Homo sapiens: one gene and its partner. The protein of the gene in region 1 purifies or fractionates together with the protein of each later gene. This does not show direct contact. Each region holds a gene or a part of one and is shown on either strand. Other genes may lie near its edges. The genes, in order: SFI1 and USP9X.

Evidence for each region.
Region 2: the proteins of SFI1 (region 1) and USP9X purify together in Homo sapiens (affinity purification with western blotting; one study listed by BioGRID). This does not show direct contact.

What each region holds. Positions count from the first base shown.
Region 1 is NC_000022.11:31,499,226-31,503,044, reverse strand, and holds part of SFI1 (protein SFI1 homolog), read right to left. Parts: intron 1-3,819. UniProt on the Homo sapiens protein: Plays a role in the dynamic structure of centrosome-associated contractile fibers via its interaction with CETN2.
Region 2 is NC_000023.11:41,091,888-41,095,706, forward strand, and holds part of USP9X (ubiquitin carboxyl-terminal hydrolase 9X), read left to right. Parts: intron 1-3,819.

The DNA of each region.
Region 1 (3,819 bases):
CTCGCTTTGTTGCCCAGGCTGCAGTGCAGTGGCTCAATCTCGGCTCACTGCAAACTCTGCCTCCTGGGTTCAAGCGATTCTTCTGTCTCAGCCTCCTGAGTACCATCACACCTGGCTAAGCTAGACTGGTCTTGAATTCCTGACCTCAAGTGATCTGCCCGCCTCAGCCTCCCAAAGTGCTGGGATTACAGGTGGGACCCACCACGCTCGGCCATAATCTCTCAGTTACACTTAAGTATAAACAGACAATTGAGAATCATAAAACATTTAGAAAAGACCTCCAACAAATAAAAAAGAGACCAAAATAAACCCAACAAAGCACTGATGAAGTGCTACCACCCATGATGAAATCTTGCTAAAAAATTGAACCTGGCCGGGCGCAGTGGCTCACGCCTGTAATCCCACGACTTCAGGAGGCCGAGGCAGGTGGATCACCTAAGGTCAGGAGTTCAAGACCAGCCTGGACAACATGGTGAAACCCCGTCTCTAATAAAAATACAAAAATTAGCCGGGCATGGTGGCAGGTGCCTGTAATCCCAGCTACTTGGGAGGCTGAGGCAGGAGAATCGCTTGAACCCAGGAGGTGGAGGCTGCAGGAGCCGAGATCACGCCATTACACTCCAGCCTGGGTGACAAGCGTGAAACTCCATCTCAAAAAAAAAAAAAAATTGAACCTGAATATCATCCAGCCTCATCTAGAACTAAGTACAGTAAGTCCTCACTTAATGTCATTGATAGGTTCTTGGAAACGGCAACTTTAAGCAAAATGATGTATAAGGAGACCAATTTTACCATAAAAGGTAGTTGATACAAACAAGATTTAAGTTCCTGTAACATATTTCTGGTCAGAAAACATCACCAAACTTCTAAATAAAGATCCAAACCCTTTTAATATTAAACACTGAAATAAATGTGAGCTATACATATATGTACAGAAGATTCATAAGAACAAGTAAGATAATTATTTACCCACTTATTCCAGTTCAGGGTCAAGGTTGGCTAGAGTGTATCCTGGCAGCTCAGGGCACAAGGGGGGATGCCACCCTGGACAGGAAGCCATTCATGGCATTGCACACTCACACACACACTCACTGACACTAGGATCATTTAGACATGTCAATGAAGCTAATGTGCTTATCGTGGGGACATGGGAGGAAATCAGAGCATCCGGCAAAAACCCACATAGGCATGAGGAATGTGCCAACTACAGACAGACAGTGGACCCATCCAGAATCAATTTTTTCTTATCAATGTTATGTTTTAACAAAATGTTGAGAGTACCACACAATCAAAAATGTATAGACTATAATCAAAATAACATCTATAGATAAGGTACTCTGCTACGCATTAGTGCTAAGCACTTTTCATGAACTACCTACTTTAATATAACTACCTCAGCAAGTGGTTATCAACTTCATTTTACAGCTGGAGGGCTCAAGGTTCCCAGCTAACAAGTGGCGGAACTGGGACTAGTACAGGCAGACCTCAGAGATACTGAGAGTTCAGCTGCAGACCACATAAATAAAGCCAGTCACATGAATTTTTTGATTTCCCAGTTCATATAAAAGTTATGTCAGCTGGGCACGGTGACTCACGCCTGTAATCCCAGCACTTTGGGAGGCCGAGATGGGCGGTCATGAGGTCAGGAGATCGAGACCATCCTGGCTAGCACAGTGAAACCCCGTCTCTACTAAAAATACAAAAAATTAGCCGGGCGTGGTGGCGGGCGCCTGTAGTCCCAGCTACTCGGGAGGCTGAGGGAGGAGAATGGCGTGAACCCAGGAGGCAGAACTTGCAGTGAGCCAAGATCACGCCACTGCACTCCAGCCTGGGCAACAGAGCTACACTCCGTCTCAAAAAAAAAAAAAAGTTATGTCTACACTTGTAGTTAAGTGTGCAATAGCATTGTCTAAAAAACTAATGTACATACCTTAATTTAAAAATATTTGGCCGGGCACAGTGGCTCACACCTGTAATCTCAGCACTTTGGGAGGCCAAGGTGGGTGGGTCACGGGGTCAGGAGTTCGAGACCAGCCTGGCCAATATGGTGAAACCCCGTTCTACTAAAAATACAAAAATTAGCTGGTGGTGGTGGTGGGCACCTGTAATCCCAGCTACTCAGGAGGCTGAGGCAGGAGAATTGCTTGAACCTGGGAGACGGAGGTTGTAGCAAGCCGAGATCACGCCATTGCATTCCAGCCTGGGTGACAGAGCAACACTCAGACTCAAAAAAAAAAACAAAAAACAAAAACAAAACAAACACACACACACAAAAACACCACTTTATTGGGCAGGCACAATGGCTCACGCCTGTAATCCCAGCACTTTGGGAGGCCCAGGCGGGAGAATCACCTGAGATCAGGAATTTGAGACCAGCCTGGCCAACATGGCAAAACCCTGTCTCTACTAAAAACACAAAATTAGCTGGGTGTAGTGGCAGGTGCCTGTAATTCCAGCTACTCAGGAGGCTGAGGCAGGAGAATCGCTTGAACCCAGGAGGCAGAGGTTGCAGTGAGCCAAGATCATGCCAATGCATTCCACCGTGGGTGATGAGATGAAACTGTCTCAAAAATAAAAATAAAAATAAATAAAAACACCTTATTGCTAAAAAATGCTAACAATTATCTGATTCTTCAGTGAGTTGTAATATTTTTGCCAGTAGAGGGTCTTGCCTCCATGTTAATAGCTGCTGACTGATCAGGGTAGTGATTGCTGAAGGTTGGAATGGCTATGGCAATTTATTTTTTCTTTTTTTTTTTTTTTTTTTGAGACAGAGTCTCACTCTGTGGTGCGATCTCAGCTCCCGGGTTCAAGCGATTCTCCTGCCTCAGCCTCCCAAATAGTGGGGATTACAGGTGCCCGCCACCACAACTGGCTTTTATATTCTTAGTAGAGTCAGGGTTTCACCATGTTGGCCAGGCTGGTCTTGAACTACTGACCTCAAGTGATCGCCCACCTCAGCCACCCAAAGTGCTAGGATTACAGGCATGAGCCTGTAATGCAGGATTATACTGCATCCGGCAACTGTGGCATTTTCAATGTTTTTTTTTTTTTTTTTTTAAGATGGAGTCTCACTCTGTCGCCCAGGCTGGAGCACAGTGGTTGCAATGCTCACTGCAACCTCCGCCTCCTGGGTTCAAGCGATTCTCCTGCCTCAGCCTCTGGAGTAGCTGGGACTACAGGCGCATACCACCGTGCCTGGTAATATTTGTATTTTTAGTAGAGACGGGGTTTCACCATGTTGGCCAGACTGGTCTCGAACTCCTGACCTCAGGTAATCCGCCCGCCTCAGCCTCCCAAAGTGCTATGACAATTTCTTAAAATAAGACAATAGTGATGTGTGTCACATCGATGGACTCTCTTCCTTTCATCAAAGATTTCTCTATAGCATGTAATGCTATTTAATAGCATTTTACCCACAGTAGAACATCTTTCAAATTGAAGTCAATCCTCTTAAATCCTACCACTGCTTTGTCAACTAAGTTTATGTAATACTCTAAATCCTTTGCTGTCATTTCAACAATGTTCACAGCATCTTCACCAGGTGTAGATTTCAACTCAAGAAACCACTTTCACCAGGCACGGTGATTCACACCTGTAATCCCAGCACTTTGGGAGGCTGAGAGATGGAGACCATCCTGGCTAACACAGTGAAACCCTGTCTCTACTAAAAATACAAAAAATTAGCCAGGCGTGGTGACACATGCCTGTAATCCCAGCTACTCGGGAGGCTGAGGCAGAAGAATCACTTGAACCCGGGAGGCGGAGGTTGTGGTGAGCACTTTGGGAGGCCAAGGCAGGAGGACTGCTTGAGACCAG
Region 2 (3,819 bases), on another chromosome or scaffold:
CCTGGTAATGGATAATAAGGTCAGGGATTCTGTCCTTTACCTTTGTATATTACAGAGCACCTAGAATAATACTGTTTATAATAACCATTTGATTACCTGAATGGGAAAATCTGGGGCAGTATTTAACTTGCAGTACCTCCAACCTCTTGTACAGAATTGATTCATCTTCATTTTATGGCACCCTACAGTTTATTCTTATTAATCATGTGAGCTTTGAACACCATGTTAGTCAACCATAATCAAAGGAATTGTTTTCCTTGGGATGAGTTTGAGCTGGTGATCGTGCATATTAGATCCCATCTTCTACAGAGCCTGTGAATTGGGTGGAAAGGAAAAAGGGAGTGGCGAAGCCTCCTGTTAGTATCCTTGATGTCCATTTTATTCCTGCTGACTTTGGTGGCTATTGAGAGTTATAAGTTGAGGCTGTTGGTTACATCTCTCATTTCTAGTCTTTTCTGTTAACTGGTTACTTAGAACTCCTAAGTAAGGCCGCTCATTATTAACTTGGACCCCAGAGAGCATGGAAGTTACCGTATAGTATTGAACCCATTTCTGCCTAACAGTGTTTTCTCTCTGGTCGAGGTGTAGTGTACAAAGTTTTGGTTGCTCTGCTTGGTAACATCTCTGGAGTTCAGAGCACAGGGATCAGTAAACTTTTTCTGTAAAGGGCCACATAGTAAATACTTTGGACTTTGTGGGCTAAGAGGCAAAATTGAGGACATTGGGTAAAATTTTTATTGGTGAAATAAAAAATATAATTAAATACAGTTATGTATAACTTAGGTCTAATGAGAAAAACAATTTGGTGTGTGTGTGTGGAGGGGAGGTAATACAGTATTTTGCTTTATTGGGTAAAGTTCAGTGTTCCCTGTCATCAAATTGATTGCAGACGTTCTGTGTGAAATCCATTCTTACCTTGTGAGCTGTACAAAAACAGGAGGCTGGAATTGGTCTGTTACCATAGTTTGCCAGCCCCTAGTTAAGAGCAGTGATTTTTTTTTTTAAGAGGAGGGGTCTCGCTGTCACTCAGGCTGGATTGTGGTGACGCAATCATAGCTCATTGTAGCCTGGAATTCCTGGGTTCAAGGCATCCTCGCACCTCAGCCTGCCGAGTAAGTAGGACCACAGGCCGACATCACCTCACCTGGTTAATTTTTGTTAGAGAACAGGGGTTTGACTGTGTTTCCCAGGCTGGTCTCAAACTCCTGGCCTCAAGCAATCCTCCTGTTTTGGCCTCCCAGTGTTGCTGGGATTATAGGCCTGAGCCACTGTGCTTGACCTCCTATTTGATACACTATATGTTAACAACTCTGAACCTCCTTTCCTTAAGTCAGGTTCAAACTTCTGTACATTAGCTGATGAAAGGGATTTCTTTTTATTGCAAGGTGGTATTGCCTGAGAATAGTTTGGTTTCAGCAGCTTTGCTGTATTTGTACGGCAGTATCTTGTGTTTATGTGCAAGTTCAGATGTATTTTGCCTTTTTATAAGAATGAGCAGAAAACAAAAAAGTAAATGGCGCGATCTCGGCTCACCACAACCTCCGCCTCCTGGGTTCAAGTGATTCTCCTGCCTCGGCCTCCTGAGTAGCTGGGATTACAGGCATGCGCCACCACACCCAGCTAATTTTGTATTTTTAATAGAGTTGGGGTTTCTCCATGTTGGTCAGGCTGTCTTGAACTCCCGACCTCAGGTGATCCGCCTGCCTCGGCTTCCCAAAGTGCTGGGATTACAGGCATGAGCCATCATGCCTGGCCTACCTGGAGGTCTTAAATATCCTTGAGACAGAGGGAACTGGTTAGGGATATGAATCTTAAACCTTACTGGATTAGGTTGTGCTCATTGGTTAGGTTAGTTGGCTTTGTGCAAATAGTGAATGCAATAATTAGAATGAAATAGGAATTAAGTGAGGCAAATGTATGATGAAGTTTACATTTGAAAGGTGAGGGTATAATTAGAAATAAAAGTTTCTGTACTCTGTGAGTGGGAAAAACCCCTAAAAAGGTGACTGTCGTTTTTGAAATTTTTGACTTCTCTCACATTTTCGGGAATGTGAAAGGAGGATACTGGCTATGTACAGCATTTGTCCAGACTTTTGAAAATATAGAAAATCTCATTTACTCATTTAATTAGTGTGTATATTATCTGTTTACTGTGTCCTTTGTAGATATAATTAATTATCCAGGATTCTTAAGAGTTGACTTGGAGCATGCTGAGCTGAGGCAAGAGGGATTGTGGGGCCAGACTGAGTGTTGGAGGAGGAACCTACTGTAGTGACTACAGGTGTATTTCTTTTTTCTTTTTTTTTGAAATGGAGTTTCACTCTTGTTGCCCAGGCTACAGTACAATGGCGTGATCTCGGCTCACTGCAACCTCCGCCTCCTGGGTTCAAGTGATTCTCCAGCCTCAACCTCCTGAGTAGCTGGGATTACAGGTGGGTGCCACTATACCCGGCTAATTTTGTATTTTTAGTAGAGATGGGGTTTCACCATGTTGGCCAGGCTGGTCTCGAACTCCTGACCTCAGGTGATCCACCTGCCTCATCCTCCCAGAGTGCTGGGATTACAGGTGTGAGCCACCGTGCCTGGTGTGTTTCTTGTCTGATGTCAGTGCATGTCGTTATCTGAGCCATATCAATGTCAGCTGAGGATTGCTTTGTTATCCTCGGTGCATTATGGGAAGGAGAATCATGTCAGTGCTACCTTACTGTGATTGAATTGAATTCATTGATTTAATATAGATTCAGTTAGTACGCCTTATCCATAATATTTGGGATCAGAAGTGTTTCCGATTTTGTAATTTTTTCCCCATATTTTGGAATATTTGGAATATTACTTGCGGGTGAGTGAAAATTCAAAATCCGAAATTTGGGGCCAGGCGCGGTGGCTCACCCCTGTAATCCCAGCACTTTGGGAGGCTGAGGCGGGCAGATCACTTGAGGTCAGGAGTTCGAGACCAGCCTGGCCAACATGGTGAGACCCCCGTCTCTACTAAAAATATGAAAATTAGCCAGGCATGGTGGTGTGCACCTGTAATCCCAGCTACTCAGGAGGCTGAGGCTGGAGAATCCCTTGAACCCAGGAGGTGGAGGTTGCAGTGAGCCCAGATCGCGGTACTGCACTCCGTCTAGCCTGGGTGACAGAGCGAGACTCCGTCTCAAAAAAAAAAAAAAAAGTTCAGATTTTGGAGCATTTTGGATTCCAGATTTTTCAGATAAGGGATGCTCAACCTGTGCCATTTTAGGCACCAGAGGGTATATAAAGATGATTCTCTGCTTTCAAGGCTCTGAAGTATGGTGAACCAGACAGTTATACAGTGCAATTACAGCTGTATTAAGTGGAGGTGTGAAAAGTGTAGTAGGAGAGATGGAGAAATCATTGTTTGGCATTGGGTGAGGTCTTCAAAGATGTCCTATTTTCATGGCCCTATTAATTAGAGCAGGGACTTCCGGTCAGAGGGATCAACTTGAGATCAGGCAGGGTTTTTTAACCCTATTGACAGTTTGGGGCAGATAAGTCTTTGTTGTGAGGTGCTGTCCTACTCAGCCCTGGCTTCTACCCACAAGATGCCAGTGGTATAGCCCCTACCCCACTCATATGTCTTCAGACATTGCCAGTTGTGCCCTGGGGGCAAAATTGAGAACCATTATTTGAAATGGAGCAATGCAAGTGTGAAAGTATAGTGTTTTCAGAGTAAGAACTAGTAGGAGAGTGTGCAAGGAACACTAGAGATACTGGGAGGGGAGGGGTTATGGGAGATGGAACTGAAAGGTAGTTTGAGTGAAGCTAAAATCACAAGGGGTAACCTTGAGTGCCATGTTA